4 linked regions of the Homo sapiens genome follow. The protein of the gene in region 1 purifies or fractionates together with the protein of each later gene. This does not show direct contact. Each region holds a gene or a part of one and is shown in the gene's direction. Other genes may lie near its edges.

Evidence for each region. The genes of interacting proteins can lie anywhere in the genome.
Region 2: the proteins of PAAF1 (region 1) and SUPT6H purify together in Homo sapiens (affinity purification with western blotting; one study listed by BioGRID). This does not show direct contact.
Region 3: the proteins of PAAF1 (region 1) and PSMC6 purify together in Homo sapiens (affinity purification with western blotting; 3 studies listed by BioGRID and IntAct, with this or other methods). This does not show direct contact.
Region 4: the proteins of PAAF1 (region 1) and ALDH16A1 purify together in Homo sapiens (affinity purification with mass spectrometry; one large-scale study listed by BioGRID and IntAct). This does not show direct contact.

The regions. Positions count from the first base shown.
Region 1 is NC_000011.10:73,883,499-73,886,998, forward strand, and holds part of PAAF1 (proteasomal ATPase-associated factor 1), read left to right. Parts: intron 1-3,500. UniProt on the Homo sapiens protein: Inhibits proteasome 26S assembly and proteolytic activity by impairing the association of the 19S regulatory complex with the 20S core.
Region 2 is NC_000017.11:28,689,705-28,693,204, forward strand, and holds part of SUPT6H (transcription elongation factor SPT6), read left to right. Parts: intron 1-377; coding exon 378-525; intron 526-1,216; coding exon 1,217-1,359; intron 1,360-3,500.
Region 3 is NC_000014.9:52,713,700-52,717,199, forward strand, and holds part of PSMC6 (26S proteasome regulatory subunit 10B), read left to right. Parts: intron 1-181; coding exon 182-269; intron 270-3,500. UniProt on the Homo sapiens protein: Component of the 26S proteasome, a multiprotein complex involved in the ATP-dependent degradation of ubiquitinated proteins.
Region 4 is NC_000019.10:49,459,725-49,463,224, forward strand, and holds part of ALDH16A1 (aldehyde dehydrogenase family 16 member A1), read left to right. Parts: coding exon 1-124; intron 125-1,097; coding exon 1,098-1,175; intron 1,176-1,894; coding exon 1,895-2,076; intron 2,077-2,159; coding exon 2,160-2,312; intron 2,313-2,845; coding exon 2,846-3,031; intron 3,032-3,500.

The DNA.
Region 1 (3,500 bases):
TCACTTAGTATAATGTTTCTTTCTTTCTTTTTTTTTTGAGAGTCTCACTGTGTCGTCTAGGCTGAAGTATAGTGGCACAATCTCGGCTCCTCACTGCAGCCTTCACCTCCCAGGTTCAAGTGATTTTTGTGCCTCAGCCTCCTGAGTAGTTGGGATTACAGGCGCCTGCCACCACACCCGGGTAATTTTTGTATTTTCAGTAGAGACGAACGAGGTTTCGACATGTTGGCCAGGCTGGTCTTGAACTCTTGGCCTCAAGTGATCCTCCCACCTCGGCCTCCCAAAGTGCTGGGATTACAGGCAACTTAGTATAATGTTTCTATTTGTTGTTTTTATCAGTACTTCGTTCCTTTTTGTGGCCCGGTAATACTCTGTTGTATGGATATACTACATTTTGTTTATCCATTCATCAATTAATGGACACATATTTCTAGTTTTTGGCTATTATGAAGGAAGGAGATTTTGATGGCAGGATAGATGGCATGAGAACCAGCTGCTGTGGGGAATGGGAGGGGTGAAAGGATTACAAAACTGCTGAGTTTAGAAACATGAATTGGATTGGTGACAGTCGGCACAGTTGTGTTCTTTTCTGGAGCAGTACTCAGCAGCCTGCATGTAGGAATGTAGAAGGTAAGTGGTTGGATTGATCCTAGTTCTGCTATTATATAGAGAAAACCAAGGCTGAGGTCATTTTAGTGACTTCACAAATGTAGAGAAGTCAGCTGGGCAGGGTAACTCACCCTGTAATCCAAGCACTTTGGGAGGCTGAGGCAGAAGGATTGCTTGAGCCCAGCAGTTCGAGACCAGTCTGAGCAACATAGTGAGACTCTGTCTCTACTAAAAATAAAAATAAAAAAAATAGCTGGGCATGGTGGCATGCAGGCTACTCAGGAAGCTGAGGCGGGAGAATCCCTTGATTCTGGGAGATAGAGGCTGCAGTGAACCATGATCATACCACTGCACTCCAGCCTGGGTGACAGAGCGAGACCCTGTCTCAAATATTAAAAAAATACATATATATACATCCACAAATGTGGAGAAGTCATTGAGTGATTGGTTGAAATGATGCACCATGAGGGCCAGACTTCTTAAGGCAGTTGGTAAACACAATAGGGAATCATGGAGTGGGATAAAAAGTGAAGTTGCTTCAGTTCTGTTTTTGTGGCATCTTTCTGAAATAGTGCTTCATGATACTTCCCTGTGAAAAGCGTCTTTACTAGGTCTTCTCTAGGCCAAACTTCTACCCTAGACTTTGAGTTTCTCTGGGATTTATCCCTCAACTATCATTTCCATGACTGCTATTACCAAACTGGTGTATTAATTGATGAATCCTTCCTTCTTGTTCTTTTTGACTTTCTTTTATTCTTTTTTTTTTTTTTGAGACGGAGTCTCGCTCTGTCGCCCAGGCTGGAGTGCAGTGGCGGGATCTCGGCTCACTGCAAGTTCCGCCTCCCGGGTTCACGCCATTCTCCTGCCTCAGCCTCCCAAGTAGCTGGGACTACAGGCGCCCGCCACTACGCCCGGCTAATTTTTTGTATTTTTAGTAGAGACGGGGTTTCACCGTTTTAGCCGGGATGGTCTCGATCTCCTGACCTCGTGATCCACCCGCCTCGGCCTCCCAAAGTGCTGGGATTACAGGCGTGATATTCTTTTTTTTTGAGATGGAGTCTCACTCTGTCACCCAGGCTGGAGTGCAATGGCGTGGTCTCGGCTCACTGCAACCTCTGCTTGCCAGGTTCAAGGTATTCTCCTGCTTCAGCCTCCTGAGTATCATAGCTGGGACTACAGGCACGTGCCACCACACCTGGCTAATTTTTGTATTTTTAGTAGAGAAGAGGTTTCACTATGTTGGCCAGGCTGGTCTTGAACTCCTGACCTTGTGATCCACCCACCTTGGGCTCCCAAAGTGCTGAGATTACAGGTGTGAGCCACCATGCCCGGCTGACTTTCTTTTATTCTTGATATGCTCCTCCTTGACTTGGAGTTTTCTTTTCCCTATTTTCTTCCTAGCCAGCTCCTATCTTTCTTTGAGGCTCCTATACTCTCTAGAAAGCCCTCCCGGCCTGGTCGTGGTGGCTCACACCTGTAATCCCAGCACTTCGGGAGGTTGAGGTGGGTGGATCACCTGAGGGGAGGAGCTCAAGACCAGCCTGGCCAATATGGTGAAACCCCGTCTCTACTAAAAATACAAAAATTAGCCAGGTGTGGTGGCACGTGCCTTTAATCCCAGGTACTTGGGAGGCTGAGTCATGAGAACTGCTTGAACCCAGGAGGTGGAGGTTGCAGTGAGCTGAGATCACGCCATTGTACTCCAGCCTGGGCGACAAGAGTGAAACTCCATCTCAAAAAAAAAAAAAAAAAAATCCCTCCCACTCTTGTGTGAATCCATGATGATTTCTGCTTCTCTCCTGTAACTTCAGTTTGGCTCAACATTTATTTACTGAATAATAAATGAATGTAGCACCCTGCTAGACTTAAGGACTTCACAGTCTGTTGGGCAAGTCAGACATGTAAACAGTGTGTTATGGGCTGTTATAGACATGAATATATAAGGTGTAGAAGAAGAATGGAAACAGTTTTTAACTTCATTCTATCATCTGCGTGTGTTTATGTGTAGGATAGTATCTTACTTAGCCCATATCTCTGCAAAATCAGTATTCTACTTAGGCAAATTTTACAGGTTACTGAAGCTTAATTCTTTACTATGTATTATGTGTATATACTGTAGATAAATACATGTATGCATACTGATCTTCACCTTTCATCCTGGAAGAATTACATTTCACAGCCAGTTACATCAGGTTGAGATCACTCTAAAAGCCCTCTCTACAAATGCTGTATCAAATCTCTAAATCTTTGTTCTTAGCTTTTAGTCTTGAAAATGTATTTTAGTCAGGCCAGGCGCGGTGGCTCACGCCTGTAATCCCAGCACTGTGGGAGGCTGAGGCGAGTGGATCACGAGGTCAGGAGATCGAGTCCATTCTGGCTAACATGGTGAAACCCCATCTCTACTAAAAATACAAAAAATTAGCCGACATGGTGGCGGGTGCCTGTAGTCCCAGCTGTTCGGAGGCTGAAGCAGGAGAATGGTGTGAACCCAGGAGGTGGAGATTCCAGTGAGCTGAGATCACGCCACTGCACTCCAGCCTGGGCGACAGAGCAAGACTCCATCTCAAAAAAAAAAAAAAAAAAAAAAAAAAGAAAATGTATTTTAGTCTTGAAAGTGTATTCCCTTTCAAATTAGAGTTTAGTGCTATAGTGTGTATGTTTGACCCCTCCAAATCTCATGTTGAAATTTAATCCTCAGTGTTGGAGGTAGGGCCTAATGGGGGGTGTTTGGGTCATGGGGGCAGACCCCTCATGAATAGATTAATGTCCTCCCTGGAGAGTGAGAGTGACTGAGTTCTCACTCTGTTCTTTCCTGAGAAAGCTGATTGTTAAAAAGATCCTGGCATCTCCCTTCTCTCTCTTACTTCCTCTCTCACCATGTGATCTCTGCA
Region 2 (3,500 bases), on another chromosome or scaffold:
GGGCTCCTCAAGGAAGTTTTTGGTCTGCTTGTTAAGGAGCCAGGGAAGTCTCAGAGATTGCCACCATAATTACAAGGGGCAGGAGGGAGTTGGGAGGATGTCAGTACTACAGTTTCCGTCTAGGCCCCCTTTCCTCCTTTCTAACAGCACAGCTTTGCATTTATCTGTGGACTCATTGGGGTTCCATAAAGCATTTTGATTACAGTGTTTCATGGCTAAGTTTGAAAACCACCTTTAGTAAATGTTGATGGAAAGAAAAGAAGAAGCCCTGACAGAAACTTACTCCCATCTGGAGAGGCCCGCCCCTTCCACGGGACTCCTTGAGGCTCAGGTTGGGGGGCAGCTGCAAGGCTCTTCTTGATGGGCTTCTTCCCCAGGGCTATGGTGACAAACACATCACACTCTATGACATCCGGGCAGAGCTGAGCTGTCGATATAAGGACCTCCGGACAGCCTACCGCTCTCCCAACACAGAGGAGATCTTCAATATGTTAACCAAAGAAACACCAGAGACCTTCTACATTGGTAAATTCTGGGGTCATTTTTTTATTGGGGGCAGGAGGTGTGTTTACTGTGTACATTCAAACCAAGCAGCAGTTCCAACAGATTGAGGCAGGTTTGTGTTGTACATGGGGAAGGCCAGGAGAGCATTTTAAAAGACTAAAGAGTCCTGGACTGGAAATCAAAACTGAATTTAAGGTCAAATGTGCTTCCAGTGTGCTATGGAATCTTCATGCAGTTAGTCTTCTTATAGGCTTTATTTTCCCCTATCATCAAATCAGGGGAACGGCCAGGCACAGTGGCTCATGCCTGTAATCCCAGCACTTTGGGAGGCCAGGGCAGGCAGACTGCTTGAGGCCAGGAGTTCGAGACCAGTCTGGGCAACATGGTGAAACCCCATCTCCACTAAAAATAAAAAATTAGCTGAGCGTGGTGGTGGGCACCTGTAATCCCAGCTACTCGGGAGGCTGAGGCAGGAGGATTCCTTGAACCTGGGAGGCAGAGGTTACAGTCAGCCAAGATAGCACCACTGCACTGCAGCCTGGGCAACAGAGCAAGACTTCATCTCAAAAATAAATAAATAAATAAAAATCGGGAAGAGTTCCCTCTTCAAGGATGGGAAGGAAGTCAGATATTCTGTCACTGAAAGGCTGGTGGAAAGAAGTGCTCTCCACATTCTCTGAGCCTGCTCCCCATCCTCTTTTCCTTCTTGCAGGAAAGCTCATCATCTGCAATGTCACTGGCATTGCCCACAGGCGTCCCCAGGGTGAGAGCTATGACCAGGCGATCCGCAATGATGAGACAGGGCTGTGGCAGTGCCCCTTCTGTCAGCAGGACAATTTCCCTGAACTAAGCGAGGTGTGTGCTGCAGCATTATCCTGCTCAGTGGATTTCCTTGGTTGAATGATCTCGGTGCCTAGAAGGGAATCAGAAATGAGGGTGTTCTAGATCATTCTCTCACCAAACAAGTACACAAAGAAGGAAGACGGACGGGAAACACACAGGTTTAGCATGAAGTCCCTTCTGAGAAGGCTGACATAGCTGGGCACGGTGGCTCACGCCTATAATCCTAGCACTTTGGGGGCCAAGGTGGGCGGTTCATCTGAGATCAGGGGTTCGAGACCAGCCTGGCCAAGATGGTGAACCCCCGTCTCTACTAAAAATACAAAAATTAGCCAGTTGTGGTGGCATACGCCTGTAATCCTAGCTACTCGAGAGGCTGAGGCAGGAGAATGACTTGAACCGAGGAGGCGGAGTTTGCAGTGAGCCGAGATCATACCACTGCACTGCAGCCTGGGTGACAGAATGAGACTTCATCTCAGAAAAGGAAAAAAAAAGGCTGACTTAGAAACTTCTTATGGTCGGCCGGGCGCAGTAGCTCACGCCTGTAATCCCAGCACTTTGGGAGGCCGAGGCGGGCGGATCATGAGGTCAGGAGATCGAGACCATCCTGGCTAACACGGTGAAACCCCGTCTCTACTAAAAATACAAAAAATTAGCCAGGCACGGTGGCGGCCACCTGTAGTCCCAGCCACTCAGGAGGCTGAGACAGGAGAATGGCGTGAACCCAGGAGATGGAGCTTGCAGTGAGCCAAGATAGCAGCATTGCACTCCAGCCTGGGCGAAAGAGCGAGACTCCGTCTCAAAAAAAAAAAAAAAGAAACTTCTTATGGTCGCTGGGTCAAAACAAAATGGCAGACAGGCATGGTGGCACGTACGTATAGTGCCAGCTACATCAGAGGCTAATTTGGGAGGATTTCTTGAGCCCAGGAGTTCGAGGCCAGCCTGGGCAACATAGCAAGACCCCATCTCCTTTTTTAAAAAAAGGGAGGGGCTGGCCGGGCGCGGTGGCTCACTCCTGTAATCCCAGCACTTTGGGAGGCTGAGGCGGGCGGATCATGAGGTCAGGAGATCGAGACCATCCTGGCTAACACGGTGAAACCCTGTCTCTACTAAACAATACAAAAAATTAGCCAGGCATGGTGGTGGGCGCCTGTAGTCCCAGCTACTCGGGAGGCTGAGGCAGGAGAATGGTGTGAACCCGGGAGGCGGAGCCTGCAGTGAGCCGAGATTGCACCACTGTACTCCAGCCTGGGCGACAGCGAGACTCTGTCTCAAAAAAAAAAAAAAAGTGGGGAGGGGCCAGGCCGGGCACAGTGGCTCATGCCTGTAATCCCAGTACTTTGGGAGGCTGAGGCAGTTGGATCACCTGAGGTCAGGAGTTCCAGACCAGCCTGACCAACATGATGAAACCCCATCTCTACTAAAAATATAAGGATTAGCAGGGTGTGGTGGTGAGACTCCTATCTCAAAAAAAAACACAAAAGGGAGGGGCCTCAGTTGCAGCTAAAGGGATCTAAGTTGGATAAACATAAAAGAGGATGGGGCACAGTCACACCAGTAATCCCAGCACTTTCAGGGGCCGAGGCAGGTGGAGTGCTTGCCCAGGAGTTCAAGACCAACCTGAGCAACATGGCAAAACCCTATCTCTACAAAATAAAATTAGCCAGGCTTAACCGGGTGCAGTGGCTCACGCCTATAATCCCAGCACTTTGGGAGGCCAAGGTAGGTGGATCACGAGGTCAGGAGATCGAGGCCATCCTGGCTAACACAGTGAAACCCCATCTCTACTAAAAATACAAAAAATTAGCTGGGCATGGTGGCGGGCGCTTGTAGTCCCAGCTACTCGGGAGGCAGAGGCAGGAGAATGGCGTGAACCCGGGAGGCAGAGCTTGCAGTGAGCCAAGATTGTGCCACTGCACTCCAGCCTGGGCAACAGAGCAAGACTCTGTCTCAAAAAAAAAAAAAAAAAAGATTACCCAGACTTGGGGGCGTGCGCTTATAGTCCCAGCTACTCGAGAGGCCAAGGTGGAAGGATCACTCGAGCCTGGGAGGTTGAGGCTGCAGTGAACCCTGATTGCACCACTACACTTCAGCCTAGGCAAAAGAGTGATACTGTCATAAGAAAAAGATGGCTAGGTGTGGTGGCTCACGCCTGT
Region 3 (3,500 bases), on another chromosome or scaffold:
GATCTTAAATCTACCTGGAGCAAAACCTCTTAATATAAATGGTTTTACCTAGCATGGAAGTCTAGGTCTATTAAGAATTATGATGTGTACACCTAACTAAGGTGATATTTGACTTAGAGTATTTGAAAGTACATTAAAAATCTTGACTAACTTTTTAAGAAAGATTTAACTTCTTTTCTAGGTGATAGAATTACCTCTTACAAACCCAGAGTTATTTCAGCGTGTAGGAATAATACCTCCAAAAGGCTGTTTGTTATATGGACCACCAGGTTGGTATTGAATTATTTCTACTCCACCAATAAGATAAATGAATTAAGGAATTAAAAAAAAAAAGACAATTTTTTTATTTTTATTTTTTTGAGACACGGTCTCACTCTGTTGCCCAGGCTGTAGTGCAGTGGCACAATCTGGGCTAACTGCAACCTCTGCCTTCCGGGCTCAAGTGATTCTCCCACCTCAGTCTCCCACGTAGCTGGGACTGCAGGCGTGCATCACCATGTCTGGTTAATTTTTGTATGTTTTGTAGAGAAGCAATTTTGCCATATTGCTCAGGCTATCTCAAACTCCTGGACTCAAGCGATCTGCCCACCTTAGCCTCCCAAAATGTTGGGATTACAAGCATAAACCACTGCGCCTGGCCATAAGGTGGAAATTTGATGTGGGCAGTTCCAACTTCTCCTCTCTTCAGAGTGAGAATGAGATAGGATATTTATGTCTACTGTTCTTTGAGGCATGCTTAGTGCATTTGTGCCTCACAGTACATTTATCTTAACAGGCCATGTGATTCTAGTGCAACAGTCCTCAAATTGTGGTTCACAGACCCAGAGGTGCTTTCATGGACTCTGTAAGGTCAAAACTACTTTATAATACTGAAATGTTAAGCCAGGCGCAGTGGCTCACACCTGTAATCCCAGCACTTCGGGAGGCCGAGGCAGGCAGATCACCAGAGGTCAGGAGTTTGAGAGCAGCCTGGCCAACCAACATGATGAAACCCTGTCTCTACTAAAAATACAAAAATGAGCCAGGCGTGGTGGCGTGCACCTGTAATCCCAGCTACTCGGGAAGCTGAGGCAGGAGAATTGCTTGAACCTGGGAGGCAGAGGTTGCAGTGAGCCGAGATTGCCCCACTGCACTCCAGCCTGGCTGACAGAGTGAGACTCCTTCTCAAAAAAAAAAAAAAAAAAAAAAATTTTTTTATATAAAGCAAATGTACCTATAGCATACTGCTTGACATATGTAGCCCCACAATGACACAAAACAAAAAACTAAAATGTTGTTTGGCTCTTCCACTGTGTTGACATTTGTGCTGATGGTGCAAGAGCACCATGGGTAAAATTAAATTACTTGCACTGTAGTGTGAATCAGCATTAGTGGCATGAAACGGTGCTAGTTAGTAGCCATTGCGTTCTTGACTGCCACATACTTGCAGTGTAAAAAAAAAAAAAGTCAGTTTCACTATAAAGTCCTTGGTGAAACAGTAAAAATTATTAATTTTGTTAAATCTTCATCTTTGGGTAATATTTTGTGTTCTTCATGATAAAAGGGAAAATAAATATAAAGTACTGCTGCATATTGAATAAGATAGTTGTCTTTAGGAAAAGCACTTGTGCAGTTATTTAAGTTGCCAGCTGAATTCATTGCTTTTTATGGAATACTATTTTTGCTTGAATGGACCATTTACAGATATGCTGTGATTATCAGACTGGTTATTGGTTATTAGTTATTGATTACTCAAGACTGGTTTTTGGTTATTTGGCGCACATTTTTTCCAAAGCGAACAAATTAAGCCTGTCATGTTAAACAACTGACACCATCTATTGCCATTGATAAAATATGAAATGTCAAGTGAAAATTAGAATTTTTAGAAACATATATCTGGCACTATGTGGTTGAAGCTTTTTCTTTTTTTCTTTTCTTTTCTTTTTTTTTTTTTTGATAAGGTGTTACTCTGTTACCCAGGCTGGAGTGCAGTGGCGTGATCATCCTGGCTCGCTGCAACTTCTGCCTCTTGGGCTCAGGTGATTCTTCCACCTCAGCCTCCTGAGTAGCTGGTACTACAGGTGTGTGCCACCATGCCAGGCTAATTTTTGTGTTTTTAGTAGAGGCAGGGTTTTGCCATGTTGCCCAGGCTGGTCTTGAATTCCTGGGCTCAAGCAACCCGCCCACCTCAGCCTCCCAAAGTGCTGGGATTACAGGCATGAGCCACAATGTCCAGCCACGGCAGCTTTCTAATATATTAATACTTAAAGACTTTTCTGATGAGATAAGTGGTGAGAATAACAAAAATTTTTTATAATGTGTGGTGGAAAATGTCAACATTTGGAAGATTTGCATAACTCAACCAGTAGTTTCCAAATAATCAATGCTTGATATTAAAATATTCATAAGTAAAAGATCCAGTCAGTGCACAGGATAGACCAATGTATTTTAATGTAACAGAAGTTTCTGTCATAGTCCATGTTGTAAGTAGATAGCTATTATAAAAAAGACAAAAGTGTTTGCAAGATGTAGAGAAAAGAGAAAGAACCCTTGTACACTACTGGTGGGAATGTAAATTAGCACAGCCATTTTTGAAAACATGGAGGTTCCTCAAAAAACTAAAAATAGAATTACCATATGATTCAGCAATCCCACTTCTGGGTTTATATCTAAAGGAATTGAAATCAGTGTGTCAGAGATAGCTGCACTCCCATGATTATTTCACAATAGCCAAGATATAGAAACAGCCTAAAAATTGCCCATCAATGGATGAATGGATAAAGAAAATGTGGTAGCCGGGTGCAGTGGCTCATACCTGTAGTGCCAACACTTTGGGAGGCCGAGGCGGGCGGATCACCTGAGGTCGGGAGTTCGAGACCAGCCTGACCAACATGGAGAAACCCCGTCTCTGCTGAAAATACAAAATTAGCTGGGTGTAGTAGTTCATGCCTGTAATCCCAGCTACTCGGGAGGCAGAGGCAGGAGAATCACTTGAACCTGGGAGGCAGAGGTTGCAGTGAGCTGAGATCATGCCATTGCACTCCAGCCTGGGCAACAAGAGTGAAACTCCATCTCAAAAAAAAAAGAAAAAGAAATGTGGTAAATACACACATTGGAATACTATTCAGCCTTAAAAAAGGAAACTCTGTCATTTGTGACAATATGGATGAATCTAGAGGATGTTATACTAAGTGAAATAAGCCAGACACAGAAAGACAGTTACCACATAATCTCATTTTCATGTGGAATCTTAAAAAATTGAACTCGTAGAAACCAAGAGTAGAATGGTGGTTACCAGAAGTTGTGGTGGTGTATGGGGATAGGGGAGATGTTGGTCAAAGGATATAAAGTTCACTTAGACAGGAGGAATAAGTTCTAGGTGACATATTGCATAGCATGGTGACTATAATTAATAATGTATTAGCTATTTCAAAATTGCTAAAAGTAGATTTTAAATGTTCTAACCACAAAGTAATGCTAAGCATGTGAGGTGATGGATATGTTGATTTGCCTGATTTAAT
Region 4 (3,500 bases), on another chromosome or scaffold:
GTGACTGGGCGGGCTGTTCGAGAGGTTCGAGACGGGGACGTCCAGCTGGCCCAGCAGCTGCTCCACTACCATGCAATCCAGGCATCCACCCAGGAGGAGGCACTGGCAGGCTGGGAGCCCATGGGTGAGACCCTGGAGTCCCTAGCCCTATCCTCCCACATGACTCAGCAGTGCTAGCTCCAGTCCCCTCATTCTTTTTCTTTTAGACAGAGTTTCGCTCTTGTCGCCCAGGCCGGAGTGCAGTGGCGCAATCTTGGCTCACTATAACCTCCGCCTCCCGGGTTCAAGTGATTCTCCTGCCTCAGCCTCCTGAGTAGCTGGAATTACAGGCACCCACCACCACACCTGGCTAATTGTTATATTTTTATTAGAGAAGAGGGGTCTCATCATGTTGGTCAGGCTGGTCTCAAACTCCTAACCTCAGATGATTCACCTGCCTTGGCATCCCAAAGTGCTGGGATTACAGGCATGAGCCACCGTGCCCGGTCCCCTCATTCTTTTTCTTTTGTTTTTGTTTTTGTTTTTTTCTTTTTCAGACAGGGTCTTTCTCTGTCACCCTGGCTGGAGTACAGTGGTGCAATTATAGCTCACTGATACCTCGACCTCCTGGGCTCAAAATCCTCCCACCTCAGCCTCCCAAGTAACTGGGACTACGACCATGCACCACCACACCTGACTAGTTTTTGTTTTTGTTTTTTTTTTTTTTGAGATGGAGTTTCGCTCTTTGTTGCCCAGGCTGGAGTGCAGTGGTGCGATCTCGGCTCACTGGAACCTCCGCCTCCCGTGTTCAAGTGATTCTCCTGCCTCAGCCTCCCGAGTAGCTGGGACTACAGGCATGCACCACCACGCCTGGCTAATTTTGTGTTTTTAGTGGAGATGGGGTTTTTCCATGTTGGTCAGGCTGGTCTCGAACTTCCCACCTCAGGTGATCCGCCCACCTCGACCTCCCAAAGTGCTGAGATTACAGGCGTGAGCCACCACACCCGGCCATTTTTTTTTTTTTTTCCTAATGTAGCCATGGGGTCTTGCCATGTGGCCCAGGCTGGACTTAAACACCTAGCCTCAAGGGATCCTCTTGCCTCATTTTTTTCTTGCAGGAGTAATTGGCCTCATCCTGCCACCCACATTCTCCTTCCTTGAGATGATGTGGAGGATTTGCCCTGCCCTGGCTGTGGGTAAATGATGGCCTGGGGGGTCCTGACTCTTGGGTCTGAGAAAGGAGGGGATCGTGGGGCCCAAACTCCAGAGTCTGAGAGACAAGGGGGCTGGAGGCCTGGACTCTGTGGAAGGAGTCTGTGGGAGGAGGGGCTGCGGGTCTGAACTCCTAGGTCTGAGGGAGGAGGAGCTGGAGTCTGGACTCCTGAGTCTGAGGGAGGAGGAGCTGGAGTCTGGACTCCTGAGTCTGAGGGAGGAGGGGCTGGAGTCTGGACTCCTGGGTCTGAGGGAGGAGGGGCTGGGGTCTGGATTCCTGGGTCTGAGGGAGGAGGGGCTGGGGTCTGGACTCCTGGGTGTGAGGGAGGAGGGGCTGGGGTCTGGACTCCTGGGTCTGAGGGAGGAGGGGCTGGGACCTGGACTCCTGGGTCTGAGGGAGGAGGGGCTGGGACCTGGACTCCTGGGTCTGAGGGAGGAGGGGCTGGAGTCTGGACTCCTGGGTCTGAGGGAGGAGGGGCTGGAGTCTGGACTCCTGGGTCTGAGGGAGGAGGGGCTGGGCCTGGACTCCGGGGTCTGAGGGAGGAGGGGCTGGGGGCCTGGACTCCTGAGTCTGAGGGAGGAGGGGCTGGAGTCTGGACTCCTGGGTCTGAGGGAGGAGGGGCTGGGGGTCCAGATTCCTGGGTCTGAGGGAGGAGGGGCTGGGCCTGGACTCCTGGGCCTTTGAGCTGCCCCACTTCCCCAGGCTGCACCGTGGTGGCCCTCGTGCCCCCGGCCTCCCCGGCGCCCCTCCTCCTGGCCCAGCTGGCGGGGGAGCTGGGCCCCTTCCCGGGAATCCTGAATGTCCTCAGTGGCCCTGCGTCCCTGGTGCCCATCCTGGCCTCCCAGCCTGGAATCCGGAAGGTGGCCTTCTGCGGAGCCCCGGAGGTACCTTCGGGACAGGGGTCGTGGCGGAACGCGGCTGGGGGCCGCAAGGCTCCTCCTGCGGCTGAACTGGGGGGGGTCCCTAGGAAGGGCGTGCCCTTCGACGGAGCCTGGCGGGAGAGTGTGCGGAGCTGGGCCTGGCGCTGGGGACGGAGTCGCTGCTGCTGCTGACGGACACGGCGGACGTAGACTCGGCCGTGGAGGGTGTCGTGGACGCCGCCTGGTCCGACCGCGGCCCGGTGAGACCCGTGCGCTCCCGTCTCCTCATACCCTGGAGGCCGTTGGTGTCTGTCTCCAGTCTTCGGGGTCCCGAGTCTCTGTTCATTTTATTTTATTTTATTTTATTTATTTTGAGACGGAGTTTCACTCTTGTCGCCCAGGCTGGGGTGCAGCGGCGCGATTTTGGCTCACCGCAACCTCTGCCTCCCAGGTTCAGCCTGGGAGTAGCTGCCTCAGCCTCCCGAGTAGCTGGGATTACAGGCGGGCACCACCATGCCTGGCTAATTTATGTATTTTTAGTAGAGACGGGGTTTCACCATGTTGGCCAGGCTGGTCTCGAACTCCTGACCTCAGGTGATCCGCCCACCTCGGCCTCCCAAAGTGCTGGGACTGCAGGTGTGAGCCACCGCATCCGGCCTCTCTGTTCTTTAGGACTCTGTTGATTTATCTGAGTGTCCATGTCCCTAGTTTTCCAGCCTCTGTCTTCACTCTTCAGATCACCAACTTGCTAGAGTGCAATGGTGTGATCTCCTGATGCCCCTTTTCCTCACAGGGTGGCCTCAGGCTCCTCATCCAGGAGTCTGTGTGGGATGAAGCCATGAGACGGCTGCAGGAGCGGATGGGGCGGCTTCGGAGTGGCCGAGGGCTGGATGGGGCCGTGGACATGGGGGCCCGGGGGGCTGCCGCATGTGACCTGGTCCAGCGCTTTGTGCGTGAGGCCCAGAGCCAGGGTGCACAGGTGAGGCAGGGGGTAGAGACTTGAGGGTGTCAGGGGAGGAGGGGCCTGGAGACCCAGCTCCTGGGTCCAAGGGAGGAGGGAGCTGGGCGTGGACAACTGGGTCCGAGGAAGGAGGGGCTGGGAGCCTGGACTCCTGGGTCTGAAGGAGGAGGGGCTGGGCCTGGACTCCTGGGTCTGAGGGAGGAGGTGCTGGGGCCTGGATTCCTGGGTCTGAGGGAGGAGGGGCTGGGGCCTGGACTCCTGGGTCTGAGGGAGGAGGGGCTGGGCCTGGACTCCTGGGTCTGAGGGAGGAGGTGCTGGGGCCCGGATTCCTGGGTCTGAGGGAGGAGGGGCTGGGGCCCGGATTCCTGGGTCTGAGGGAGGAGGGGCTGGGGGTCCAGACTCCTGGGTCTGAGGGAGGAGGGGCTGGCGGCCTGGACTCCTGGGTCTGAGGGAGGAGAGGCTGGGGGTCCAGACTCCTGGGTCTGAG